Linked DNA regions of Homo sapiens. The protein of the gene in region 5 purifies or fractionates together with the protein of the main gene of each other region. This does not show direct contact. Each region holds a gene or a part of one and is shown on either strand. Other genes may lie near its edges. The genes, in order: IGF2BP2, ELAVL1, MAP1B, RAPGEF4, RIMS1, SPECC1L and TMOD2.

Evidence for each region.
Region 1: the proteins of RIMS1 (region 5) and IGF2BP2 purify together in Homo sapiens (co-immunoprecipitation; one large-scale study listed by IntAct). This does not show direct contact.
Region 2: the proteins of RIMS1 (region 5) and ELAVL1 purify together in Homo sapiens (co-immunoprecipitation; one large-scale study listed by IntAct). This does not show direct contact.
Region 3: the proteins of RIMS1 (region 5) and MAP1B purify together in Homo sapiens (co-immunoprecipitation; one large-scale study listed by IntAct). This does not show direct contact.
Region 4: the proteins of RIMS1 (region 5) and RAPGEF4 purify together in Homo sapiens (co-immunoprecipitation; one large-scale study listed by IntAct). This does not show direct contact.
Region 6: the proteins of RIMS1 (region 5) and SPECC1L purify together in Homo sapiens (co-immunoprecipitation; one large-scale study listed by IntAct). This does not show direct contact.
Region 7: the proteins of RIMS1 (region 5) and TMOD2 purify together in Homo sapiens (co-immunoprecipitation; one large-scale study listed by IntAct). This does not show direct contact.

Annotation. Positions count from the first base shown.
Region 1 is NC_000003.12:185,692,145-185,696,300, reverse strand, and holds part of IGF2BP2 (insulin-like growth factor 2 mRNA-binding protein 2), read left to right. Parts: intron 1-3,072; coding exon of another isoform or gene 3,073-3,124; intron 3,125-3,520; coding exon of another isoform or gene 3,521-3,538; coding exon 3,539-3,602; intron 3,603-4,156.
Region 2 is NC_000019.10:7,995,422-7,999,577, forward strand, and holds part of ELAVL1 (ELAV-like protein 1), read right to left. Parts: intron 1-4,156. UniProt on the Homo sapiens protein: RNA-binding protein that binds to the 3'-UTR region of mRNAs and increases their stability.
Region 3 is NC_000005.10:72,110,283-72,114,438, forward strand, and holds part of MAP1B (microtubule-associated protein 1B), read left to right. Parts: exon of another isoform or gene 1-3,205; intron 3,206-4,156. UniProt on the Homo sapiens protein: Facilitates tyrosination of alpha-tubulin in neuronal microtubules. Phosphorylated MAP1B is required for proper microtubule dynamics and plays a role in the cytoskeletal changes that accompany neuronal differentiation and neurite extension.
Region 4 is NC_000002.12:172,742,105-172,746,260, forward strand, and holds part of RAPGEF4 (rap guanine nucleotide exchange factor 4), read left to right. Parts: intron 1-4,156.
Region 5 is NC_000006.12:72,175,894-72,180,049, reverse strand, and holds part of RIMS1 (regulating synaptic membrane exocytosis protein 1), read right to left. Parts: intron 476-4,156; coding exon 135-475; intron 1-134. UniProt on the Homo sapiens protein: Rab effector involved in exocytosis. May act as scaffold protein that regulates neurotransmitter release at the active zone.
Region 6 is NC_000022.11:24,318,780-24,322,935, forward strand, and holds part of SPECC1L (cytospin-A), read left to right. Parts: intron 1-2,508; coding exon 2,509-4,139; intron 4,140-4,156. UniProt on the Homo sapiens protein: Involved in cytokinesis and spindle organization. May play a role in actin cytoskeleton organization and microtubule stabilization and hence required for proper cell adhesion and migration.
Region 7 is NC_000015.10:51,810,445-51,814,233, forward strand, and holds part of TMOD2 (tropomodulin-2), read left to right. Parts: 3' UTR 1-3,789. UniProt on the Homo sapiens protein: Blocks the elongation and depolymerization of the actin filaments at the pointed end. The Tmod/TM complex contributes to the formation of the short actin protofilament, which in turn defines the geometry of the membrane skeleton.

The DNA.
Region 1 (4,156 bases), on a different chromosome or scaffold from region 5:
AATTGGATTTACACGGTTGCTACTTTCCTTTCCCTGGATAAGAAAAACAGATCCCTAATGTCTTGGACTGAGTGTTACCCAATGAATAGGACTCCTATACCAATAATCCCTTGAAGTGCTTGTGAATTGCAGACTCCTAGGGCTTACTGTAGACCTGCTGAGTAAGAGTCTTGCAGGGAAGAGCTCGTGAATCTATATTTAAAAAAGCACCCGAGGCCAGGTGTGGTGGCTCATACCTGTAATCCCAGCACTTTGTGACGCCCAGGTGGGCAGATCACATGAGGCCAGGAGTTCAAGACCAGCCTGGCCAACATGGCAAAACCCCATCTCTACTAAAAATACAAAATTAGCCAGGTATGGTGACGCATGCCTGTAATCCCAGCTACTTGGAAGGCTGAGGCACGAGAATCGCTTGAGCCTGGGAGGTGGTTGCAGTGAACCGAGATTACACCACTGAACTCCAGCCTGGGTGACAGAGTGAGACTTTGTCTCAAAACAAACAAACAAAAACCCTGAAGTGATTTTTGTGTACACTCAAGTTTGAGAACACCTGTCTCAGGAGCAGTGCTGCAAATGCCCAGAAGATACTTTTCTTCCTGCCAACCTCTTTTTTATCTTCTAAAGCATGAAATACTATGATTTTTAAAAGGAAAACAGTGGTACCTAAAGCTGATATCTTATCTAGCTCTTTAAGAGTCCCAGAAAAGTAGATTCCAAACTCCTGATGTGACAGGCAATAATACATGATAAAGATTATTTTTGCCTTGACCTAGAAAACAGAATGTAAATTCAGTCATTTACTGACTGCGAACCCTTGAAAAAGTCAAATAACCTCACTGACTCAGTATGCACAAGTGTCAAATTGAGAGAGAAATTTCTACCCTTCCTCTGTCACTGGATAGTTGTGTTACCCAAAGAGAACCTGTATAAGGCATTTGTAGACAGCAGAGTCATACGTAAGCTGAAGGGATTGTTCAAGTTCACTTAGGAAAAATTGCAAACAACCCATTTTCTTGTATATGATCTATTCTGCTAGTTTAATTAATAGTTTTAAAGCAGTAATTATTCAGATATTATTCAGTTTATGCTGCTGCCTGCCCATGCCCAAAGGTGAAGGGAAAGAGCTCAGAAAGAAGACATGATTTATAAGGATTCTATTTCTTAGTTCTTATTTCCTTCGACATGGAAAGAAGACTCCCCCTGCTTTTTTTTTTGAGGCGGAGTCTCACTCTGTCGCCCAGGCTGGAGTGCAGGAGCATGATCTCTACTCCCTGCAACCTCCACCTCCCGGGTTCAAGCAATTCTTGTGCCTCAGCCTCCCTAGTAGCTGGGATTATAGGTGAGCGCCACCATGCCTGGCTAATTTTTGTAGTTTTAGTAGAGACAGGGTTTCACCGTGTTGGCCAGGCTGGCATCAAACTCCCGGCCTCAAGTGATCCACCCACCTTGGCCTCCCAGAGTGCTGGGATCACAGGTGTGAGCCACCGTGCCCGGCAGAAAAGAAGACATTCTAATGATTGGGTGTTGTAGGCAAGATGGTCTTGCAGACATGAACCTGTAAAAGTTACTAGTTAAGATTATATTATAAACTGAGGACAATGCTACGCAAGAAAAATATATTCCAGGTCCCTGGGGCAGTTTATAGGTCCTAGGGCAGCTGTGTGCTGGAGACCCCCCAGTTTCCAGCTGCCTAACAACAACAGGATAGAACTGTTGGGCTATTGTTTTGTCCTGTTACATGAGTGATTCCTGATTCAGCAGGAAAATATTTTCAGTAGAGTTTTAGGCAACTTTATAGAACTTTCATGCCCAGTGAAATAAATTATTTGAATGGAGCTTAGCTCGTCACAGAATCAAAGAACTGCCTGATTTCCTGAAGACTAACATCTTTGAAGAACAGAGCATATGACTAAGAAGTGAGCACAGAATCTGAGAATCCTAATGGATAGCTTTATTCAGGAGGTTCAAACCCAGCCCTTTCTGGGAGTCTACAGCCTTATCTGTAGCACTAGAAAGCAGCAAATATGAAACCTTTTTAGCATTCTCTGTGTCAGCACTGAGAGAGGACAGTAATGTGCTACACCTCCCCTGTTTTGCACTGTGAGGACTTCTGTGGGTTAAGTGTGAATTAAAGCGTGCTATGAACACTCCAGGCCAAGGCCAGAGCTGGGCTCGGGTTTATTACATGTAATTCTCAGTGGCAGCTCTTTCTGAGCATTACATACAACTCCCTGCAACCCATAAAGGCTGCAGCTGCTTTAAAGTTATTTAACAAACAGTATTTTTAACAGTAGTCCTTAAGCTTTTCGGGGTCTCAGGTCCCTTTGCAAATCTTGTAAAATAACAAGAAAAATTCACATTTCTACAAGTTTGAATCATTTTGGAGGGGTTTATAGAATTCTTGAAGCTCAAGCATGGGTCCAGTGTAAAGAATCGTATATTATAGAGTTTTATTATTACTTTGGACAGCAGGTTTATCATAATTTTCTTGAATTATCTTTAACTTAATGTTGTTGTTAACTCCAAACTCCCAACAGCTTAAATCTTTTAAAGGGAAGAATTGATCTAGTCACCTTTGTTTTGGGAAACATATATTTTTGGTGTTTAAGTTTACTGGCTTGGATTGAGAAAGTTTTCTCTGGCATTTGAATTTATTTTTAATTTCTAACTATAGAAGAAGAGGCAAGAAATTATGATCTAAGACAAGACAACTCACAAGAGTAATCCCTTATTAGCCAATCATAGAGTTTATACTTTCTCTTTTAGCCAAGTAATTAGAATTGTCAGTTTTATTTATTAGATTTAACCCACACAGTCAAAGAGTTCAGTCAAAGGGAAACAAAAATAGTGATGGTTCAACCTTGTCAGTGAATGAATAATTTAAATTAAAATATTTTCTTATTGTTTTATATGTATATCCAATTATTTAAGAATTAATGCAAATTATAATTAAAACTCATACCTTGATAGTGATGTAATAAATTGATACAAACTTCTAGGAGACCAGTCTGAAAATATGCATTAAAAAGCATCATGTTCTTTTACTGCATTACTTTTCTTCTGTGATTTTAGCCTAAAGAAGTAATTCAGAAGAACACACAATCCAGTGATGTTTGCAACAAAGGTGATTTTTAGCAACACTATTTAGACTAGCAAATAGTGGGAACAGCCTACTTACCAACAATTGGGGAATGGTTAGGCAAGTCATGGTACATTTGACTCACTGCAATTTTATATAGACATTAAAAATGAAAAATACAAAGAAAATGTACTGATACAAAATACTCATATAAAAGTGTTTATAAAATATGTGGAAAATATAGTTCTGAGTTGTTCATACGATTGATTACAAACGTGTTATATACAATTGATTACAAATTACTGTGAACTCAGATGAATAAACGTAGAGATGCAGATAACTGTGGAGCCAGTGTGATGAGGGTTTTATGCATTTTTCTCTAAAGTTTGTCTGTTTACATTAAGCCAGAGGGTGACAGCACTTTTTCCTATGACAGTGTAGTTTTTGCCTTTTCCCTAGTCAACACAGACACAGAAACCGCCGTTGTCAACGTCACATATGCAACAAGAGAAGAAGCAAAAATGTAAGCAGATTTGGGCTTATTTCTGTTTAAATTTATTTGTTTTTATATTTGAATTCCATTGAGTTCTGTGTTTTTAAATGTTTTCTAAAAAGATGCAGATCTTTGAGCTGGATATGTGCCACCTTTGACATACCCATGGAGCTCCACGGCATCTGAGCCACCTTTGACATATTGGTAGAGCTCCAGGGTGTTCCTGCCATCTTTGACATGTCAGTGGAGCTCCAGGACATTCACACCGGGATATTTGTGGATTGTGTAGAGACTTGAAAAATGTTGAGCCTTGGCATCAAAACCAAGATGGGAGCTGTGTCTTGACATGATCGGGAATAGAGGGCACCATACCTGTGACACTGTGTCTCCTAGACTCTGCTTTGCCAAACACTTGGGACCACTTTTACCTAGAGCTTCCTCCATGCACTGTGAAGAGGCAGCACAAGCCTATACCAAAACATCAATTTTGTGTGTGTAACATTAGGAGGGAATCCACCTCAGTGAGAGCAGCAGCCGAGAGAATTGTCTGAGAGTGGTTACTCAATAGCACCTGGTTTGGGTTC
Region 2 (4,156 bases), on a different chromosome or scaffold from region 5:
CCACAGTGTGGTATCCTCTAGGTCTGGGAAAAGTGGACCTCCTGAAACACACATCATGGCCTGTGGTACAAATCTGGCCCATTGCCTGTTGTTATAAATAAAGTTTTATTGGAATACAGCTTGTCTCATTTGTTTATGTATTGTCTGTCTATAGATAGTTTTGTACTACAATAACACAGTTAAGTAGTAGCAACCGTATGGCCAAAAAAGCTGAGAATATTTACCATCTGGCTCTTCACACAAAAAAAATCTGCCGACCTCTGTTTTAAAATGTAAAAACATAAAATTTCTTGGAGAAAAATCTTTGTGGCATTGGGCTGGGGAAAGATTTCTCAGACACAACACCAAAAGCCCACTTCGTTAAAAAAAAAAAAAAATGGATAAACTGGATATCATCAAAATTTGAAACTTTTGCTCTGTGAAAGATACTGCTAGGAGAATTAAAATCCACCAACTGGAGTAAACATTTGCAAAAGGGACTTGTAGTCAGAACACTTTTTTTTTTTTTTGAGTCAAAGTCTCACTCCACTGCCCAGGCTGAAGTGCAATGCCATAATCATAGCTCACTGCAGCCACAAACTCTTGGGTTCAAGCAATCCTCCTGCCTCAGCCTTCTGGCTAATTTTTTATTTTTTGTCGAGATAGGGTCTCACTATGTTGCCCACGCTGGTCTTGAATTCCTGGTGTCAAGTGATCCTCCCATCTTGGCCTCTCAAAGTATTAGAATTATAGGCGTAAGCCACCTCACCCAACCCAGAACCCTTTTTTTTTTTTTTTTGAAATGGAGTCTTGCTCTGTCACCCAGGCTGGAGTGCAGTGGCATGATCTCCGCTCACTGCAAGCTCCACCTCCCGGGTTCATGCCATTCTCCTGCCTCAGCCTCCCAAGTAGCTGGGACTACAGGCGCCCGCCACCATGCCCAGCTAATTTTTTGTATTTTTAGTAGAGACGGGGTTTCACCGTGTTAGCCAGGATGGTCTCCATCTCCTGACCTCGTGATCTGCCCATCTGCCCACCTCGGCCTCCCAAAGTGCTGGGATTACAGGCGTGAGCCACCACGCCTGGCCCAGAACACTTTTTTTTAAGCTCTCAAAACAGAAGCAGGCTAGTGTGCTGGCTCATGCCTGGAATTCCAGCACTTTGGGAGGCCGAGGTGGGTGGATCACCTGAGGTCAGGAGTTTGAGACCAGTCCGGCCAACATGGTGAAACCCCATCTCTACAAAAATACAACAAAAAAAAAATTAGCAAGGCGTGGTGGTGGGCATCTGTAATCTCAGTTACTGGGGAGGCTGAGGCAGGAGAATCGCTTGAACCTGGGAGGCAGAGGTTGCAATGAGCCGAGATGGCGCCACTGTACTCCAAACTGGGCGATAGGGCCAGACTCCATCTCCAAAAACCAAAAACAACATAATGAGCAAACAACCTGGTTTCAAAAATGGCAAAAGATTTGAACAGATACTATACCAAAGAATATATATGGATGGCAGACAGGCACATGAAAAGATGCTCAACATCATTAGTCAAATTAAAACCACATCGAGACACCGCTACCCACTTATTAGAATGGCTAAAGCAAAATAAAACAAAAAACAACCAACAGCAACAAAACAGACAATGTCAAGTGCTGGCAGGGATGTGGAGAAGCCAGAATATTCATGCACTGCTGGTGGGAATGCAAAAATGTGAAATGTGACAGCCACTTTGGAAAACAGATTGGCAGTTTCTTATGGTGAAATATACACTTAGCATGGGATCCAGCAATCCTACTCCTAGTATTAAGGCAATAGAAAGGAAAATCTATATTCACACAAAAATCTGTATATAAATGTGCAGAGCGGCATTATTCATAATCATCCAAAACTACAACAACCCAAATATTCTTCAAGCCATTCATGGATAAACTGGGATACACCATACAACAGAATACCACCTGGCAATAAAAGGTATCACCAATTCATGCTACTTGTGTGAATCTCAAACACATCTTGCCACATCATTTCTGTGCCTTCCTGGAAAAGGCAAAACCATAGGGATGGATCTGTGGTCGCTGGGGTTAGGGAGTGAGGGGAAAAGTCGATTACACAGGGACAGGAGGAGGGAGTATTTCTGTTTGTGGGAGAGCGAACTTTCCAATCTTTATTATGGTGGTAATCAAACAACTTTATCCGTTTGTCAAAACTCAGAGAACTCTACTCGAAAAAATGAATTTTCCTACATGCAAATTTAAAAATAAATTGTCTGAGTGTGGCGACTCATGCCTTTAATCCCAGCGCTTTCAGAGGCCAAGGTGGGAGGACTGCTTAAGCCTGGAGTTCAAGACCAGCCTGGGCAGCACAGAGAGATGCCATCATTACAAAAAAAAAAAAAATTAAAAATTACCCAGGAATGGTGATGCACACCTGTATGCAATCCCAGCTAATCGGGGGGCTCAGCTGGGAGGATCACTAGAGCCTGGGAGGTCAATACTGCAGTTAGCTATGATTGTGCCACTGCAGTCCAGCGTGGGCGACAGAGTGAGATCCTGCCTCAAAAACAACAACAAAACCACAATAAAAATAAATTTTAAAAGGTTTAAAAAGAGAACTTCTGCTTTGCGGCCCTGTTCCTCCTGACACTCTGAGTCAAGGCTGAGCAGCCCCTGCAGGTCAAGTTCTTGGTCAACTAGTAACACGGGAGAAACCAACAACCTGCCCTGCAAAGCAGTTTCATGACGTTTCTGGGCCCCCACCCCACTCTCTGGAGGCCCTTCCCTTGACCTTCTCCAAATCTGCATCATCAATCCTGGGCCAAATCAGCTTCTATCCCACAAGCTCCAACCACAACTGGGCCTTGTCACCACTCAATTATCACTGACTCCCAAGTCGTAGCCACTTCTGTCTCTCGAGGTGCAAGGCCTGCACTGTCCTGCAATCAAGATGCTCACCCCTCTGGTATTCCCTGTCAGTGGTCACCACCCATTGAGGCTCGGCGGTCACACGATGATGCTCACGGTCAGGCATGCCATTAATAAGTGGCAGGGCCAGGCCTCAAGTTGTCATGACAATGCAACTGTCAAACTGGCAAGGCCCTTCACAATCGGACCCAGGTGGTTCTCCAGCCTCAGTCGCCACCCTCCCTTCCCGCTCACTCCAGCTTCTTGCCAATATGCTACAGGCCTCTGCTTTGGCTGTTCCCTCTGCAGGGCACTAGTGTCCTCTCCTTCACTTCCCAGCTCATTTTTTAAAATTAGTATTTTTTTTTAAAGAGATGGGGGTCTCTCTTTGTTGCCCAGGCTGGTCTTGAACTCCCAAGCTCAAGTGATCCTCCTACTTTGGCCTCCCAAAGTGCTGGAATTGCAGGTGTGAGCCACCATGCCTGGCCTCCCAGCTCACTTCTATTTTTACTTATTTTTCTTTTGAGAAAGGGTCTTGCTCTGCTGCCAAACTAGAGTGCAGTGGCATAATCACGGCTCACTGCAGCCTCAAACTGCCTCAGTTTCCCAAGTAGCTGGGACTACTGGTGTGTGCCACCATACCTGGCTGATTTTTAAATTTTTTTAGAGACAGGGGTCTCATTTTGTTGCCCATGCTGGCTTCAAGTCATCCTCCCACCTGGGCCTCCCAAAGTGCTGGGATTATAGGTGAGAGCCACTACACCAGGCTGGCTCATCTTTAAAAAGCTACCTTCCTGGCCTGGCGTGGTGGCTTATGCCTGTAATCCCAGCAATGTGGGAGGCCGAGGTAGGCGGATCACCTGAGGTCAGGAGTTTGAGACCAGCATGGCCAACATAGTGAAACCCTGTCTATACTGAAAATACAAAAATTAGCTGGGCGTGATGGTGCATGCCTGTAGTACCAGCTACTCAGGAGGCTGAGACAGCAGACTCACTTGAACGCGGGAGGCAGAGGTTGCAGTGAGTCAAAATCACGCCACTGCACTCCAGCCTGGGCAACAGAGTGAGACTGTCTCAAAAAAATAAAAAATAAAAGGCCACCTTCCCCCAGGACAACAGGTTACTTACTCTAGTTCTCAGTGCCTCCATGCCATTGCTGTAAACCTTTGTTACTGTCCCAACCACTCCTATCATTATTTGCCTTACACTCAATGACCAATGTCAGTGGTGAGAACCTTGAGGGCCCAGGTTATACCATTGCCATCTAAGAGTCCCCAGGCAAA
Region 3 (4,156 bases), on a different chromosome or scaffold from region 5:
GCATGGAACTCCGAAATGACTGTATTGATCCCATTAAGAATCAACCAAGTGAGTGAGCAGAGCCGTTTCTTTACACACCGTAGCAGATGCTGCTTTTCCTCTGAAGATGGCTCTCCTGGGTTCTGGGGTCTTGGCTGCAGCTCAAGATGCAGGCCCTTCCAGCGCTAAGTGAAAATCCTGCTCCCATAGCTTTTCAGACAGTCTGAGATGACTTAGCAACAGAGCAGGCTGGTCCTGTTTTCCTGTGCACGACAAGCTGCTGCTTCAGCCGCCAGGTCTCAGCTGGGCCTCCTCCAGAGGCCACTGCTGTTGTTGCTTGGTGCCTTTGGGCCTTGTTGTGTGAAGCAAGATGGAGCTGCTCCAGGGGGGCCAGCTCTGATGATTGTGTGTTGCAGGCTGGGAAGGCAGTTCCGCATCTGTTACTCTTTCTTCCTATTTCCCCTCCTGCCTTAACTGAGATTCTGGGTTTGGAGACCCTGGCGACTTGGATTCTTGCCATCCGATTACTGAGGGCTCTCTGGGAAGCCTAGAAAATAATCTATAAATCTGTAGAGACATGGTGGTAATGCAGTAAATCAACAGGCCTGGAACGTCCCAATGTGGATGCTTCGTAAATGCCTCTTGAAACCAGGGAAGAGAGATGGTCCCTCTTGCTTTCTCAACTATATTCGGAAAGCATAATGAAAGCTTTGGACATGTCTCCTCCAGAGTTTGGAACAATAGTGTTTCCTCGGACTAGGCTAGCTTCATTTATTTAGTTATGCAGGACTTTATTCCAAATCGTTTTCGCTACCACCAACTACTACTCTTTGGCACCTCCTTTTTCTCCTCCCTAATTAGCCCCCAGCATGGATTTAGCTAGTGGTTCTCATTTTCAGCAAAACCCTGCTTCTTGGTTTTATTTTAATACATAGAGGACATACATCCGTGTCTTGCAAACTGAATTCTAGAGCCTTGTGAACGTTTTCATTGTTTCATTTTTTTTTTAAGGAACTAAAACATATAAAGAATATTAAGTGTCTGTTGGATGTTTTCAATTACCGTTAGATTATAACTTTTCCTTTAGTTAACACTGGGAATCAGCAAGATTTGTTGGTGAAAAGATAGATGAATGTAACATCTACTGCTCTGCATTTTTAGATAAAAGTTTAGCTGATTACATTGTTACATTCTGATGTCACTTAACTGAATGTCCTTCAGTCTAAGATGGTAAGAGAATTTAAAACCCAGGAAAGATTTGGGGTTTAGTTTTCCTTTTCTTTTAACAGGGGAAATAAGAAACCAATACCATATGTGGTGAGAATTAAATGTTAGAGAGTCTTAAATTTACTATATTTGCCTATACTTTTCAAAGTCGAAGACAGATGGATTTCTGCTTGCACTGCTTAATTGGTATTATCTACGACAGCTCTGTGATCCATGCTGAAACACAAGGCAGTCCCCAAATTTAAGGTCATTAAATTGTTCACCTTCTCTAAGGGCTTACTTTAAAAAAATAAGTTATAACTTTTTAGACAAGCAAATAATTATGTCACTTCTCATTTGCTTGTGTTGTAAGATGTTATCTCAGACCTAAATTATTTATTATCAATGCTTTGAAACTATGAGCTCTGTATGTAAGATATTATCGTCATTACATACATATGTTATGAACATCAAGTTGCTGGCTTTAAAAAAAGAAAAAAAGCAAATTAAAGATGAGTTCAAGGGAAAAAATAAGAATTTTTTCCTCTGAGAAATAAAGCATTCCTAAATGTAGCATTTCCTTTAGTTCATTTATTTAGTTTATGATTTCAATCTGATTTCAGACCACTTTTTAGCATAGTTTTACAAATATAATCTTATGATTCTAGGTTAATGATTTAGGTACTTGGAAAAAATATCCAAAAGCCTGTTTTTCAGAGGGAGCAACTAAAGCCCATAAAGGAAAATCAACTTGCCAAAGGCCCAAATAACTGTCAGATAGAACCCATGTGCCATCAACATACAATGCATGGTCATTTCATTTTGCTTTCTTCAATCCACTGTCACCTTTAGAAATATGAATTTTAGCTTTTAAATGGGAGGTGCTTTTTTAAATTGTTGGTTTCATTAAACAACCCTGCAAAATGCTTACATGATTGGAAAACTTGGAACAATCTAGCCTGTACACACCAAGAGTACCTGACTTCTCCTCATTTTTCACCCTGACTTGTTCTTTAATGACCCCTCCCTGCCTCCCTGCCCCATAACCTATTCTTTTCTCCTTTTCTCATCTGTGTATATCATGTGCATGTCAGCCTCCCTTGTGTGCACTGCTACCACCTGGGGTCAGAGAACTGAGAAGGAAAGATCTTTTGTTGCTCCCTGGTCCCAAGGAGCTCACTTTCAGGGCTGGGCAATAGCCACAGAGCAGGCCCAGATTGTTCTCAGAGATGACGGATGCCTTTTGGCTCCAGACATTGAAAGAATGGGGTTCACTGCCTCCAACTGCCTGGAGTTATTCTGCCCCCACCTGGGTAAGCCCAGAAGGGGTACAGTCTTAGAATGCTGGGGAAACAAAGCCTCCAGGAAGAGCTTGACTTGGTGTATATTGGGGTGAAAATTAGAAAGAGGGCTTCCCTGCTCCCCAACAGAGACCAGGATGACTTGCTTCTGAAAGCCTCTTTAGAACCTCTTCACCAACACCCCAGGATGCCCTCCAGCCAGATTCAGAGAGGGGAGAATATGGGAAGGGCCAAAGAGATATTTTTCTGTCCTGTAAACTTTAGAGGGCTCACTGTTGGCTCCTTGTTAGGCACAAAGGGGAACTACATAAACCTACTAAATGCAATATGAACCTTCATTAACAACTACTCTTTGCCTTTACCAATATTATCCAGCAGGAGATACAAAGTAATTACAAATTATTTTATTTCTAAAATTGGTATGGAAAGTGGCCTGATTCCAAAATTTTCCTTTCCAACTAAAATAGCTGGCAAATCCAACATAACCTTTATTTTATAAGTGGTAGTAGTGGTTGTGCATTGCTAAGAAACAATTTGGGTGGAAATTGCTCTCTTGAAAAAAGAACCCTACATTTTTAGTTTCATTGGGAGTGTAAAAATGAGAAATATTTTTATCAGCCGTTTACTAGTATAATTTAGAAATTACTAAGTGGATTTATCATTTAGTACTTTTTCTATTGCTAAATTACAAATATGTCAAAAATAAAATATGTATGAAAATATAAAGCAAACATTTAATTGTGTGTGCCATGACAAGTTAACTGAAGCCAAGGGAAAATGGCAAGTAACAATGTAAGAGCAAGTCTGCAGATAACCCTGGATGAAGTCATTCAAATAATGTACCAATTTAGACATTACTTAGAACAAAGACAGAAAAATTGTATGAATTTAATTTAAATGCATATGTCTCATTATTAACTTATTGACCCAGCTTGACAGGGTAGAAGACAAAGTAGAGCTCAGACCTGGAACAAGGAGAATTCAGTCAACAATACCAATTAAGCAGCTCAGACAGGAACTCGATTTTTTTGCACTAGACTAGTATATAGTGTATACATTGAAGTAAAATATTCTAATGAATTCAGACCTCTCAACCTGTCAAGCTCTCTGTGAAACAAAAAGAACCCATTTATCATTTCTGCACTAAAAAGATCTGCGAAATCTCAACATGCCTTTCTTGTTAAAATTCAAATACTCCATTAGCACAAATGCAAACTGAGGCTATTAATGTTTCCAGGAAGAGCCATAAAATTCTCCCTTATAATTTGACCTTTCCTTAAGCACGTTAACTCTTCCACATCTGAATTCTTCCCATTGATCATATGAGAAATTTCTGCCTGTATTTAGTGGACACACATCTATTTGAAAATATTCCTCCTGGTTGAAAAGGTCTGTGGTGTGTAATCTAAAGATATTTTAGATGTGCAGTGAACTGAGTTTCCAGAATCTTTTTTTTTTGTAATGTCTATGTATAATCCACCTTGATTCTTTACAGGATAGGAAGACTGAATACAATATAACCAAGGGTAAATACAAATATGCCTTAAGGATCCAGTGTGTATTTAAGTAACACACTGCTATTTATTCCTTCAAGTCTGTATACATGACTAATGTCCAACAAAAATGATTACATGACTGGGTGTTAATTTAGAGATAGTTCACCTGCTGTG
Region 4 (4,156 bases), on a different chromosome or scaffold from region 5:
TAAATATTTTAGTATATGTCTCTAAAAGGTAGTGACTTTTTATAAAGAAAACAATACCACACACATTAAACAACTTGACGTTAGTTCTCTAATATAATCAATTATTCAGTCAGTGTTCAAATGTCCCCATTTACCTCATAACTTTCTTTTTTGCAGTTTGTTTGTATCAAGAGCCAAATAAGTTGCATTTAGTTGATATGTCTATAGGTCTGGGTTCTCTCTTTCTCTCTTTTTCTTCCTTGTAATACATTTCTTGAAGAAACTGGGTTGTTGTTGTTTTTTTCAGTCTGAATTTTCATTGTACCTCCATGCAGTTTTTTAAAACATGTTCCTTTGTCCCCTGTATTTCCTGTAAATTAGTATTTGGGTCTAGAGTTTGACTTTTTGGTAAGAATGCATCACAGAAGTGTTATATATTTCCATAATGAGGTATATAATGTCAAGTGATCTCTTTTCATAATGTTAGCAATATATTGTTTTTAAAGTTTAATGCTTGGGAATTATCTATTTGCAATTTATTGGGAGACATTTCACTGTGGCCTCAAATACATGGGAGCACATGACATATATATTTGGAGTAATTTGAGAACAATACAACCTCATATGTAATTAGGGTTAAATTCTGTTGTGCTGATTTTACTTGCTTTAATCTATTAGGAAAGGAAAGTTTAGCCAGACCTGGACTCCCTCAGACTGGGGATACATGTAGGATTGGTGTGCTCAATCCACACCCTTGACCCTGCTGCCTGGTCTCCTGCATGCAGCCTGGGAGCTGGAAAGAGTCTTCAGAGGAAAAGTGGTGCTTAGCAAAGCAAATCCAGCCTCTTTGTCTTAGTTGGAGTTCTCTCAAATGGATTTCTGGCCCCTCCTGTGAGGTGGGACTGGCAGATACCTTTTGTTGGAATTTCCCATGAGCTTAGAAGATTTTATGGCCCTCTCATCGTAGCTGCTTATTGTCCTGCACCACCTCCTCACACCCCATGCAGCTAGTTTTTCTTCAGTCAGAATAAAATCACGTTTGTGCATCCTCAACAGTGGTCAATGAGAGTGGGTTTTTCCTCCAGTACTTTCACGTCACAGATGAGGGAGAGACTGCCCTAGGAGTACTGAGAGACTGAGGAAAGAGAAAGAGGATGGAAAGAACTGGGTGGGGAGGGAGACAGCGAGAGATCCAGCTGAACATCTGACAGAAAACAATCTGGCTGACGAGCGGAGGCGGACAATCCTGGTGTGTTGACTCAGCTGCATCCGTGTGCACCCTCTTGCTTCCCCTGCCCCAGAAGAAACACAAAGTGCTGCCACTACTCTCTTTTCTCTCCATGCCAGCTCTTTCTTGGCGCAACTATCTGTTTCCTTTGCTGTAACTGCTCAGATTCCTTAAACTCTGTATCTGTGGCTTATCTTCTAGACCAGATGTATTTTTGTCTGTTGGATATTCCCACATGAATATCCCATTAATATTTTGTGGGGCAGACATTGTTTTCCTTCACCTACCTCTGCTATAGAGGCTAGAAAAACAACATAGTTATTTTCCCAATCTTCCTTCAGGTGAGGTGTCCATGTGGCACTGTCTGGCCAATGAGACATAGCAGAAGTCTACAGGAGGCTTCCAGGGAAGCTCTTGCTTTACCCGTGTATTTGATTTCCCCTTCCTCTCTTCTTTCTGCCTGGAGTTACTACCCGAGGCCCGGGCCTGTGGCAGCCATCTTGTAATCCCAGGAGCAAGTGCCCAGAGAAACACAGAGCCCCCAGTTCTGACTTTGTCCACCTGCTGAACCCAGATCAGTAGTTACCCACCTTCAGATTTTTGTTTTGTGAAGAAAAAAGCCCTATTTCTCTAAAGCATTCTTTGTTTGGTGTTCTATCATTTGCCATCAAAATGATCTCTAACCTAACAGATTGATACTTGTCTAAAGTTGACCTCATCTTTTTTAGCCCTGCTCCCCATTTGTTTCTCCTTCTTGCTTTACTATTTTATTTATGATGTCATGACTTCCTCATTCTCAGAACTTTGAAGTTATCTGCATTTTCCCTTTCCTATGTCCTTTTCCACATCTAACCAGTCACTAATTGTCTTGACTTTTATTCCACTTTTATTTCAGGGCCTTAGCATCTGGATCTCCCCGTTTTCTGTTTCCAGTCTGGAAAACATGATATAGTCAAATCAGCTTTGTCTTAGGATCAGCCAGACCTGGATTCAAATTCTGTCACCTCTACCCTCTAGCTATGTGATCTTGGCCAAGTTATTAATCTTTTTGAATCTTTGTTTTCACATCTTCAAATGAGATTCCCAGTGCCTACAGTAATGGCTATGTTGAGGTGTGTGAGCTAATGCAAACGTTGCGTGGTCATCTCTAGAGAGAAAATGTAGTGTAGAGGTTAAAAATTTAGGAGTCAGACTGTATAGGCTCAAACCCCAGTTTTAATTTTATTGATGGTGTAATTTTGGGCAAGTTATTTGGTTCTAGTAGTTACTTTATAGATTCATTGGGATTTTCCCTGTAGACAATCTTGAATGTGAATACTGGTAGTTTTACTTATTCTTTCTGATTTTTATGTCTTCTATTATTTATTTTTCTTGCCTTATTGCATTTGCCAGGAATGCCAGGACAAAATTGAATAGAAGGGGTGAGAATGGATGCTCTTGTTTTGGTTATGATCTTATAAAAAATAGTTTGCTATTTTGCCACATTAGTTGTCTTTCATGTAGTTGTTTTTTTTTAGCAAATTCCCTTTTCTGAAATTATTGAGATGATTATATTATTTTTCTGTTTTATTCTGTAAATATAGTGAATTTACATTGTCTGAATTTCAAATGTTAAGCCAACCTTGCCTTCCTAGAATAGATACTACTTTGTCAACATGCATTATACTTTTTATATATTACTTTATTCAACTTACTAATATTTCATTAATGCTACTTTCATGTCAATTCATGAGGGATATTAGCCTATAACTTTCTTTTCTTATTTTAGTATCAGGATTATTCTGGCTTAATCAAGTGAATTAAGAAACATTTCCTTTTTTCCTATTTTTTCCCTCTATTTTTAAATGAACTTATATAAGATCAATGCTATTTATTTTACAAATGTCTTATAGATGTCATCTGGGCCAGGAGTTTTCTATATGAAAAGCTTTTTAATGACAAATTCAAACTGTAATAGAGGACTGTTCAGATTTTCTTTTCATGTCAGTTTTTATAGTTATTTCAAGGAGTTTGTCCATTTCATCTAAGTTATCAAATTTATTGACATAGAGTTGTTCATAGTATTCCTTATAATCCTTTTAATGCCATTAGGATATGTAGTGTTGTTCTGTCCTTTGTATCCCATATTGGTAATTTGTGTCTTTTTTTTTTAATTCATTCTTACTAGGAGCTTCCCAATTTTGTTAATATTTTAAAAGAAACAACTTTTAGTTGATTTACTGTTTTCTTTGAGAAATTTATTGATTTTTGCTCATTTTTTTTTCCTTTTTTCTCCTTACTTTGGGTTTAACTTATTCTTCTTTTTCTGGCTTCTTAAAGTGGAAACTTAGTTGGTTAATTTTAACCTTTCTTCTTTACTAATATAAGCATTTCAGCTTCAATTTCTCATTTTCAACACAAGGAAGCACAGGTATTTTTTTATTCAGTATTTGTAAACTTAAACTATTTCTGCTGGAGAAGAACAATTAATCAAGCTGATACTGGGACCTCTTGACTCCCTCAGCCTCAAGAATATACTTTGCAATGTGGTGAACAATATCCTCAACAACATTCCAACAGTGATTCAGCAGTGAGTTTCACAGGCTCTTTAAATACAGCATAATTCTAAAGAAACATTAAGAAAGGGTAATTCTGCGAGGGGGCCAATATAATATACAGTTTTCAGGTGATCTGATTTAATCCAAGGAAAGATTGTAGTATATTTTAGAAATAGATGGATTGTGTTTCTTACTGAAAATCCACTATAAATATTGTTTTTTCGCATTTGAGCCGTTAACAATGATTATGATTGAGTTGCAATGACTTTGAAGTAATATTTTCCAATAGATACCTGGAATCATTCTATTCTGTGTTGTTGGCTGAATGAAGAGTAATAAGACTTTGGTGTCAGCCAAACTGGGGGAAAATTACATTCTTGTTTGGCTATCATTTGACCTTTATATTCCATTG
Region 5 (4,156 bases):
CTTTTGTTTTTCCATGTGGGGCCTGAGAAGTACTACTTCCACATATTCCTCGTAATAGAAGTTAAATTCTTGAAAACGGCTTTGCTCTCCTAGCAAAATCTTGCCTTTTGCTTACAGGGTGAAAGAACTATTACCTCTCTCTAGGAGGTTCACTTCTAGACCTGGATGAAGCCTGCTTCTGTTCAGGCCCCAAGGCTTGCTGCGAGGGCTCAGCCCCTTTGCTCCTGTCTGGTGGTGCGCTGGGAGGAGCAGCATCCTGGGAGGAGGCAGCTGCTGTGCTTAGGGGTGTCTGAGACCGCGATCGCTCTTGGAGTCGTGCTTTCTTTTCTCTTGGTACCTCAGAGCCAGCACCTGTAGCTGTATCACTCAGGGTTCCATCCTGACTTGTCTGCTGAGGGCCACTTCCAAAGAACCATGCCCCAGATTTGGTTAAGATTTCTTGTTGCTTTCGACATAAATTGCATACCCACATAACCTATTTGAAGAAGAAAGAACAATATAAATTTTTATGCCCTCTTGGAAATAATTTTTCAGTATCTTAAAATATATTTAAGAAAAAAAGAACAGTATTCATTTTCATATTTATCCTTGCAAATTTCTTGTGAAAATGGTCCTCCCACAAGTCACAGTCAAATATATGAATGCCTAGACAGGGACTTGTCTGAGACTAGAGAGCCTCTCAGCAGCCAGAGTAGAGGTTTTTTCTCAGCATTTCTGATTTGATTATTCTGAATTTCCTTTTACCATATATCTGTCATATTTTTTATAATTGACTCTGGAGTGTTAGCAAAAATGTTCTAAGCAAGGTAGTTAACTGATTAGAAAAATGTTACCAGGAAAAAAAAAGAAAAATGTTACCAGGAACTACAGAATCAGTACGTAAATACATAAACCTCAGTACTTGCAAGTATTTTTAAAAAGTCTGTCTTTTCAAAAATCACCCACAATTAAAGGCAATATTAAAAATATTCACATAGAAGAAACATACAAAGTAAGCACACAAAAAAGGTCAATGTGTATATTTTCTCTAGTTTCTTAGTGATAAACTAACCTTAAGCTTATTTATGCTATAAAATATAATTTTCCATGCACATATTTACTAAAGCAATAAATGTGACTCTGAGTTTATTCATATGTGACCACTCCAATGTAATGTTCCCCAAGGAGAGCTATTGGGGAACCATCATTTAGCAACATATCCACTGATAAATTATAAGATGTAGCACCACTTAAAATAAACTATATGTCTGTTCTCCATTTGATGACCTTTAAAATGAATGTAATAATGAGGACGATTATCATAATAAAAAATAATAATAGCAGCAATGACTAGCTGTCACAGGGCAAAGATAGGTGCTAACAGCTCCATGAGCTGTCTTTTCAAATATCCTCAGTACCTCTGTTTCTTTGTGCTGTGACTTTACATCGCTGCCTCAGTTACATGCCTCCAAAAGCACTTCAGGTGTTTTGTGTTTGTTTCTACTTCAGAAACTACCTCCACAGGAAAAACTAATTACCAAACTCTAGGCTTCCTTTTCACAAATACTGACTCAATCAACATGTACTCAAAAATATTGCATCAGGATGAATAAATCGTAGAAACATTAACTGATAAGTAATAGAAAATAGTAAAAGAAGCATTGTTTAGTAGGTCAAATGAAGAAAATGAACTACTGAAAATATTCAGATAAATGGGGAAAAACTGTAACTGTAGCCATAGAATAAGATGAAGCTAAAATAAGAATAAGAAAAAGACAGGAAAAAAGTAATACACTTTTTTAAAAGGAAAATACTGCAGGTGAATTAAGAACTGCTTTCCAGGAAAGAAAACTCAAATGAATTATAATATAGGAAAAATTAAGACTGAAGAGAAATACTTGCTATAAAAAATTTAAAATTCATGAAGGTTAATTGATTTATTTAGACTTTCCCAGTCATAAAATGAAGTGTACTAGGTTCAAAAAAGCAGTTAGGTATAATGTCTACACAAAGTATTATAACCAATATTACGGAATTCTCATCTACTAAGATGTCAAACAAGATGAACAATTCATTGCATAAACCTATATCAAAATAAGGATTTTATGGAAAGTAACTTCAATTTAAGTGCTAGCCAAATAAGGGTATATTTTACAAAATCTATTACTGAGTAGGTCCCTCAGAAGTCCTGATTGTTTGAACATGGACATATTAAGGGTAACATTAAAAGGTGCAGTACTCCAGGGCCAGGACCTTCATGAACAGTCAGTGACACTGAGTCTCTTCTGCCCAGAACCCTGAGTGGGGACAGGACGTGTGTGGTGGGAAGGTTTTGGTTGGTTGGTTTGTTTTTTGTCTCTTTAGCTGACAGACCATAATAAGAAAGTTTGAAATCATGTAATTCAACAAGACTGGTATGAAATTTTGACTATTTTACATCAAATAAGAAGACGTTAAATTTGTATTTCTCAGACTAATAGTAAGCAACTTATTATCATCATTTAAAGTAGGTTCTTTTCAGCCAGGTGTGGTGGCTGACACCTGTAATCCCAGCACTTTGGGAGGCTGAGGGGAGCAGATCTTCTGAGGTCAGGAGTTCGAGATCAGTCAGGCCAACATGGTGAAATCCCGTCTCTACTAAAAATACAAAACTTAGCCGGGCATGGTGGTGCATGCCTATAATCCCAGCTACTTGGGAGGCTGAGGCAGAAGAATCACTTGAACCCGGAAGGCAGAGGTTTCAGTGAGCTGAGATCCCGCCACTGTTCTCCAGCCTGGACGATAGAGCGAGACTCCATCTCAAAATAAATAATAAGAAATAAAATAAAATCAAGTAGGTTCTTTTCTACAGAAATATCAAGGTATACTTAGGATAAATATGCAGTTTTTAAAAAACCAGAAAACACAAATTTACAATTACAAAGTTTCTAAAATTGAATAAAGCTAAATAAAGAAGCAGAAAGGAGCACAATAATACTGATGAAGGGTAAAGGATACTCTTCATTTTACATTTGAATATTCTCTAGAAATTATTATCACAATCTTATTTTGATTGCTTCACATTTTTAAACGTTACAAAAAATGGGTCAATGAGAACTAACTGCCAGATTTGGGCATGTTCCAAATTTTGAGTATGTGCAGAACTGCTACCAGATCAATTAAAAGAAACACAATTTATTATTATTAAATAAGTTGAATTTTACAATTTAATTTCATTTCCAGTTTATTCAAAAGGTTACAATTAGTGACTATGTCAAAACAGCATAGGCATTTTAAATTCTATTCTTAAAATACTTTGTATTCATTTAAGTCTGTGATGCTTTGTTAATTTTTTTGTTTTTAACATTTAGTAAAATACTGTATAATTCCAAACTTTTTCTATGTCTTATTTCCTTGTACACCACAACATTTTTAAATTTGTATTTTTAAATTAACTATAAGTGTAGTCAATCCATCCTCCAAACTGAAAGTAAAATTAACCATGGCAATGTTAAAATATTTATTTTTATCAAAATATCACCTCCCAGTCTCTATTTTCAGTTCTACAAATTAATCATACCACAAATTTTACAAATAAAAAATAAATTGCTCATATAAGTTATAAAGAAAAATATATAAGATTACAATAGAATATTGTCATACATTTCAACACAGTTAATACCAAACATTGCAGACCTCTACAGTACATTTTTTGAAGTCAGTATTAAGTATTATATTTGCCTGAAGCTATAGATAATACAAGAGTGCTGTAGGGAGTCATTTTTAACAGATTTTTTTTTAGAAAAGAGGATAAGACGTAACTTTGCCTACAAAAAAATGCTATTTATTTAAAGCACACAAACACACCTTTTAGAAATTGCACTATGCAGGATTATACCCTGATTAAATACCCTGGGATGTGTTCCAAACTAATCTAAACTAAAGTAGGCCTGTGCAATAACTTATCTTAACAATTTACAGATGTTAAGCAATCACACACAAACTCAATTCAAATACTATCGTGAAGTTACATGACTTTTGAAACACCATGCCACATATCAGAAAATATGCAGGACTGAAAATTGTATTCTGACCTTTTGCTGTAACTGCATTTTTAATTGTCTTTTCCTCTTAATTCTTAAGAAGTACAATAAACTATTTTATAAAACCCATAGGAATTTTTTACCCAGAGAAATAA
Region 6 (4,156 bases), on a different chromosome or scaffold from region 5:
TTAGCTGGGTATGGTGGCGTGTGCTTGTAGTCCTAGCTACTCGGGTGGCTGAGGTGGGAGGATCACCTGAGCCTGGGAGGTAGAGTTGCCGTGAGCTGTGATGGCACAACTGCACTCTAGCCTGGGTGACAGAGCCTCAAAAAAAAAAAAAAAGTTATGCCATCTTTTTCCATTTTTGGCCTCCGTATACAGTTGTTTATCCCAGTCTGGTTACTCTTGCCTTTGATATCTGTCACAGATTTCTTGCCTCTTCTCTGTTCTTACTGCCGCCCCTGAATGTGGGACCTCTTTTACCTCATTGATCTACCTGCCCACATTCCTCCTCTGCTGCTCTGCTTTCTTCCTTATGTATTCCACTTAGAATCTGTATTAGTCCATTCTCATGCTGCTGTAAAGAACTGCCCCAGACTGAGTAATTCATAAAGAAAAGAGGTTTAATTTACTCACAGGTCCACAGAGATGGGGAGGCCTCTGGAAACTTAGAATTATGGTGGAAGGGGTAGCAGGCACATTCTTCTCCACATAGTGGCAGGAAGGAGGAGAATGAGAGCCAAGCAAAGGGGAAGCCCCTTACCATCGGCTGTCATGAGAACTCACTATCACGAGAACAGCGTGAGGGTAACTGCTTCCATGATTAAATTACCTCCCAACAGGTCCCTCCCGAAACACATAGGGATTATGGGAACTACAGTTCAAGATGAGATTTGGGTGGGGACACAGCCAAACCATATCAGTATCCTCTAGATTAATTTTCATAAAATGTACTTTTCCTTACATTTCTTTCCTACTCAGGATCATTTATTGACTTAGTGTGACTCACTGAATTCTGCCTATCTTTTGGGACTCTATATGAACATTCCCCAGCAGCTTCCGTTAACTGTGTGACTGTACTTTTCCTTTCTGTGTGCCATGTTCACTTCTGCTTCCTTTCGTTGTCTGTCTTTTTGCCAGCCTGAATTCCGCATCCTCCTGTATACCTGTTCTGTTAGTGGCTATCTCCCTCTATCTGTGGAGATCATTTGCTCCCTGTTACCTCTACAGCCTGGATCCCACCACCTAATGAACCAGCAGGGTCTTTAAAAATACTTATTGATTAGATGTGGATCTTATTTTTTAACATAAAAATTTGTTATTTCTTAAGTATTTACAGGTATTTAAACATATTCCTGGCCAGGTGCGGTGGCTCACGCCTGTAAGTGCGGTGGCTCACGCCTGTAAATTCAGTGGCTCACGCCTGTAATCCCAGCACGCTGGGAGACCGACGCGGGCAGATCATTTGAGGTCAGGAGTTTGAGACCAGCCTGGCCAACATGGTGAAACCCTATCTCTACTAAAAATACAAAAAAATTAGCCAGGCATGGTGGCACGCTCCTGTAATCCCAGCTACTTGGGAGGCCTAGGAAGGAGAATCGCTTGAACCTGGGAGTCAGAGGTTGCAGTGAGCCGAAATCGCTCCACTGCACTATAGCCTGGGTGATGGTCAAGAGAGACTCCATCTCAAAAAAAACCAAAAAAACGAACAAAAAAAACTTCCTGTTCTTTTTGTATTAAACAAATGATTGTGTCAGTTTTCACAGGTTTAAAATTTTAGTAGTTAAGTAATCATGTGATTCACGTAGATTTGATTGACGCATCATCATTATTTAACATTAGTGCTTCGTTGTTTTTTACATTTAGAGAGACAGTATAACATACTGGTTAAGGTGCAAAATCTGGAACCAGACTGCCTGGGTTTCAATTTTGGCTCATCTATTTATTACCTGTGACATGTTGGCAAATTATTTAACATCTGTGTCTGAGTTTCTTCATCTGTAAAACAAGGTGATAATAGCACCTACCTCACGTCTTTAATGAGGCTTATATAAGTTAATGTATGTGAAGTGTTAATGTATTTGTATAACCAAGTGCTAGGTATGTGTTAGCTATTGTTATAATTGTTATTATTTATGTGGCATTTTATGGTGTTAAAACTATTTTGCATTTACTTTGGTCAGAGTAAAATTTTTGTGTTTCTAGTAGGTAGCTTAGATTTTTGGTTTTCCCAGAGACTGCTTTTCCCTTCTTGCCCACCTATGATCTCCCTTCACTATCTGTGTACAGTTAGTTTACCACCGACTGGCTAATCCTGGAGTCATCTTCACCTGTCTTGCCCTAGAATATTATGCCTCTGGCCAACTGGTTAAAACCCCACTTCTGGATTCAAGTTAATGTATATCATTTAAATAACAGCTTTGTAGAAATGTAATTCACATTCCATAAAATTTACTCTTTTAAAAACATGTAAAACAAAGTGTATAACTTATTTCTCCTTGATAATTAAAAGATGAATGATCTTCTGGTTTTGAAGAAATTGAACTTTAACAGACTCTAAGGCAAGATTATTGTAGATCTAAATCATTGTGTAGATCCTGGATTTCATCTCATTACACCTGGGGCAGGAACTGTGTATTCTATGTAGCCTTTTATTGCTGACATTTTTGCCTTACATTTTTTGTATTAAACACATAGGCACAGCTTCTTCAACCAAGCGGAGCACTTCTACAGGTAATAAAGAATCCAGTTCTACTAGAGAAAGATTACGTGAACGTACCCGATTAAACCAGAGCAAAAAACTACCTTCTGCAGGTCAGGGAGCTAATGACATGGCATTGGCCAAACGTTCCCGCAGTCGAACTGCTACAGAATGTGACGTTCGTATGAGCAAGTCTAAGTCAGACAATCAGATCAGTGACAGAGCTGCTTTGGAGGCCAAAGTGAAGGATCTTCTCACGCTGGCAAAAACCAAAGACGTAGAAATTTTACATTTGAGAAATGAACTGCGAGACATGCGTGCCCAGCTGGGCATTAATGAGGATCATTCTGAGGGTGATGAAAAATCTGAGAAGGAAACTATTATGGCTCACCAGCCGACTGATGTGGAGTCCACTTTATTGCAGTTGCAGGAACAGAATACTGCCATCCGTGAAGAACTCAACCAGCTGAAAAATGAAAACAGAATGTTAAAGGACAGGTTGAATGCATTGGGCTTTTCCCTAGAGCAGAGGTTAGACAATTCTGAAAAACTGTTTGGCTATCAGTCCCTGAGCCCAGAAATCACCCCTGGTAACCAGAGCGATGGAGGAGGAACTCTGACTTCTTCAGTGGAAGGCTCTGCCCCTGGCTCAGTGGAGGATCTCTTGAGTCAGGATGAAAATACACTAATGGACCATCAGCACAGTAACTCCATGGACAATTTAGACAGTGAGTGCAGTGAGGTCTACCAGCCCCTCACATCGAGCGATGATGCGCTGGATGCACCATCCTCCTCAGAGTCGGAAGGCATCCCCAGCATAGAGCGCTCCCGGAAGGGGAGCAGCGGGAATGCCAGTGAAGTGTCCGTGGCTTGCCTGACTGAACGGATACACCAGATGGAAGAGAACCAACACAGTACAAGTGAGGAACTCCAGGCAACCCTGCAAGAGCTAGCTGATTTACAGCAGATTACCCAGGAACTGAATAGTGAAAACGAAAGGCTTGGAGAAGAGAAGGTTATTCTGATGGAGTCTTTATGTCAGCAGAGCGATAAGTTGGAACACTTTAGTCGACAGATTGAATACTTCCGCTCTCTTCTAGATGAGCATCACATTTCTTATGTCATAGATGAAGATGTAAAAAGTGGGCGCTATATGGAATTAGAGCAACGTTACATGGACCTCGCTGAGAATGCCCGTTTTGAACGGGAGCAGCTTCTTGGTGTCCAGCAGCATTTAAGCAATACTTTGAAAATGGCAGAACAAGACAATAAGGAAGCTCAAGAAATGATAGGGGCACTCAAAGAACGCAGTCACCATATGGAGCGAATTATTGAGTCTGAGCAGAAAGGAAAAGCAGCCTTGGCAGCCACGTTAGAGGAATACAAAGCCACAGTGGCCAGTGACCAGATAGAGATGAATCGCCTGAAGGCTCAGCTGGAGAATGAAAAGCAGAAAGTGGCAGAGCTGTATTCTATCCATAACTCTGGAGACAAATCTGATATTCAGGACCTCCTGGAGAGTGTCAGGCTGGACAAAGAAAAAGCAGAGACTTTGGCTAGTAGCTTGCAGGAAGATCTGGCTCATACCCGAAATGATGCCAATCGATTACAGGATGCCATTGCTAAGGTATTGTTTAAATAGAT
Region 7 (3,789 bases), on a different chromosome or scaffold from region 5:
ACTCCATGTTCACTACCTTCTTGTTACTACAGTGGCTTGAAATTGGCCATGGTAGAAATATTTACACCACAGAAATTAGCAATATGTAAGAAATTGGGGTTTTCTCCCTCTCCAGATTGCTGGTTGATAAACATTCATCAGCACACCACTGGGTGAAATTATACATTTTTTTATACATATGTTTCGCTTATCATGTTGCCGAAGGGAAGAACATTTCTCTTAGATGTCTTTTCTCCTCTTTGGATTTGTTACAAACCTGTTTAAGTGCTGAGTCCCTGACCTGCCTCTCCAAGTAAGCCTTTTTCCTTTTTTTTTTTTTTTTTCTTACTCTCATTCTTGCCTTGACTCTTAAAATCCTGGACCCTATAGAGCATTCCTTGCAGCCCCACAGTGCTGTGGGCTGGGGGCTAAAGCAGTTCTTGGCAAACTCTGGCAGAAAGCAAGAAAAAAAGAATCAGAATTCAATCATGGCTGTTTCTTTTGTACAAGCAGTTGTTGATAGTATTAAAGCAAGATAATGGGACATTATCAAAAATATAGCACTGTTTTTACCTTATGAAATAGTTGGGTTGCATGCAACAGAGTCTATGAAATCAAATGTTTTTTACTAATCAGTTTGTTTTCTTATTACCTGTGTTTTTAAAGTGGCTTGAAAGGTGGCATTTCCATGAGTGTGCACATATTGATGATAACCCTTAGAAAAACATACACTTGAGGAGCCTATCCATCATTTAATTAGCCTAGGACTTCATCTCCCTCTCTGCCCAAAGTGTGGAAGTGGTAGCTCTTTCATGATCATGGGCACAGTTAATCCTTTGCTATCCATTGTGATGGGGCATAATGTATATAAAATATTTTTCTATGTATTTGTTCTGCCAGATACTGTGTTGAGATATTTGGCAATATCTGGATAACTGACTGAAGGGAGATAACTTCTCCCCAGGCCTATCTCCCTCCCCCTTTTAGAGTTGTGCAGGTCCACTTTAAGTGTAAAATCACTCACCTGGACTTGTGGGCTTGTATCACCAACATCTATTATGGCACATGTAGATGACATTTAGGAGAAAAACCTTAGAAGTCTAGAAATCATATGATTAGTTCAGCACTGCAGCTCCCCATCTGCTTATAGTGTATAACTGGAAGCTCTTTCATCCTCATCAGCATGATTAAATGACTTCGTTTCTTTCATCTTTGGAGGGTATAATGTAAATAAGTGTCGTGTGTGTATGTGTGTGTGTACTGTCAGATATCTAACTAGGTATTTGGCTACATCTGGACAACTGATTGAAGGGAGATGCTCTCTCCCCAGTCCTCTTCCCTTGTCCTTTTTAGAATTGCTGCAGGCCCAGGTTAAATATGAAATTACTCCCTAGGCTTTGCAGTTTATGTTACCAACCACCACATTTTATAGCTATGTAGAGGATGACTCTTAGGAAATAAATATTAGAAGCCTAGAAATCATTTAGTTGTTCTAGCACCAAATCTATCCATTTGCCTAATGTATTTAACATTCCATCCTCATCAACATGATGAAGCCCCTTTCTTCCATCTTTGTAGGGCACATTGTATATAAATATTTTGTACATAAAGATCATCAAATACCATAATGGGGTATTTGGCTTCATCTGGAAAATTGACTGGAGGGAGATGCTGTCTCCCAGCCCTGCTTCCCTCGTCCCTGTCCAAGTTGCTGCAGGCCCAGGTTAGAAGATTACCAACCTGGAGGGGCATGCAGTTCATCTTACAATAAAAGCCCATTCATTTAAAAACTCAGAAATCATCCCAGTGCCTGTACTCCTCAAACCAATTTCCCTAAGGGAAGACTGGCACACCAGCCCAAAGAGCAGGTGCTTCTCTTCCAACAGAAACATGGCCCCTGACAGGGCACCAGCATTAGGGAAACCAATGTCCTCCGAATAGCTGCCATGAGAACATTTCAGATGCTCAAACTGAAAATTCTTAAAACCAATATTAAGCATCAGCATGCTTTAAGTGTAAGATAGCCCTTTGGAATTTACAAACACATGTGCAGCTATTTCCTTCTTCACAGATATGATGTACTCAGCCCCCTCCTAGGCACTACGAAGAAGACAGAGGAAGCATAAAAATTCTGGACTAATATAATTTTATATGTGTTTCTGAGATTGGGGAGTAGACTGAGTGCCTTTTTTACAAAGAAGATCCCATATTTAATTCAAGTATTTATAGCATCAGCAAAAATGGGCAGAGGGCGGGAAGTTGAGAACACTAGGTTCTGTGCTATGTTACCTGTATTCAGTAGAAGTGTTTCTGGAGTCAGGTTTTAAGTCATGATCCTGAAGCTTCCTTCCCCTCTTCCACTAATGATGCAATAATAGCTGTTTTCATTTTAACGAGCAGAGAACTAAGAGGAAAGGTCCTAGCTCTGCCTTCCACTTGCAGCTTCCCTTTACCTCCTCTTATTGCTTTCATCTCAAATATCCCTGCTACTCAACCAATCCTAAAGCTAAAGTACTGAGATGCACACAAAGGAAAGGTGTGAGAGTGCTTGGAAGCATCCAGCTGAGCCCACTGGATGAAAATCAGACGATAGGGCCTCCTGTTGTAATATACTAGCCAGAGAAAAGCGCCAAGAACTTCAGGGATATTATTCACTGCTTTATTGCTCCCTAACCCTAGATCAGATTGGATTTTACTTTGTAGTTCAGGAGTTAAGAAGTCAAATTGCTGACCGAGGTGGGGAAGGATGATGGAAATTAAAGGTTTACATTTGTTTAATGGCAGAACTGAGATTTGCTCAGCTTATCTCTTTCCCATCTGTCTGTAATAGCAATGACTGAATAATCAGTAGACCAATGGAAGAGGAGTTGCAAGTTTAAATTTGTAACCTGACTCTGGGTTCTGTTCTAGGAATAGTGCATGTTTTAGAGGCTTTGCCAGTTGGGATACATTGTTGACTTGGGGGAGGATGAAGGAGAGAACTGATGACCTAGACATAGAAAAGAGTAGTTAACTAACTAGATGTTCTTCTGATCTCTTCCATGGTAGACATTCTGAGCACATTGGCCCAGTTAGTTGGTATGGTGAAGGGGCACCGTACTAACAGATTTGGAGACTGAAACCTAATCCCATCACCAACACTTAGCAGGTATATGATCATGGGCAATTCATTCAATTGCCTGCCAATTATAGACTATATAGGGGGAAGAGCACTGGATTTGGAGTCAAGAAACCTGGACACTTGGCTCCACACTTCCTTAGCTGGGTAACTTTGGGCAAACCGCTTGGTCTCTCAAGCCTAAGGTTCTTCAGCTATAAAATGGGAATAATACTTCACTAACTACCTCACAGAGTTGTGGTAAGAATATAATCAGATAACTGGATAAAAACACTATATAAACTGGAAAGCGCCGTACAAATGTGAGAGATCAGTTTTATTATCAAATCACTGTTTTCCACTGCCTCTTGAATCGGCTTTATTCTAACCAACCATTACATCTTTCTCATCTTTTGGAGTATGGGTAATTGAGGCTTGGGTGTGTCATCAGGGACTGGAGTTATTTCAGCTCCCATGTAGAGGTGGGAGAGGTGGTTGATGGGGCAGTGGAAGTTAGATACCAGCGATGTATATGGTAGGACATTTTCCTGGGTCACTTTGACAGTACCTTGGGAAATTGTCAGTCCTTGCAGAGGGCCTAGGCTGGGCACAAGGGAGAAAGCGAACAGTTGACTAAGAATTGAGGGGAGGGTCTGGAGCGCTACTGCCCTCCTGTCATTGCTGTGGGTGGGAGAGGCTAAGACTTCAGGTTT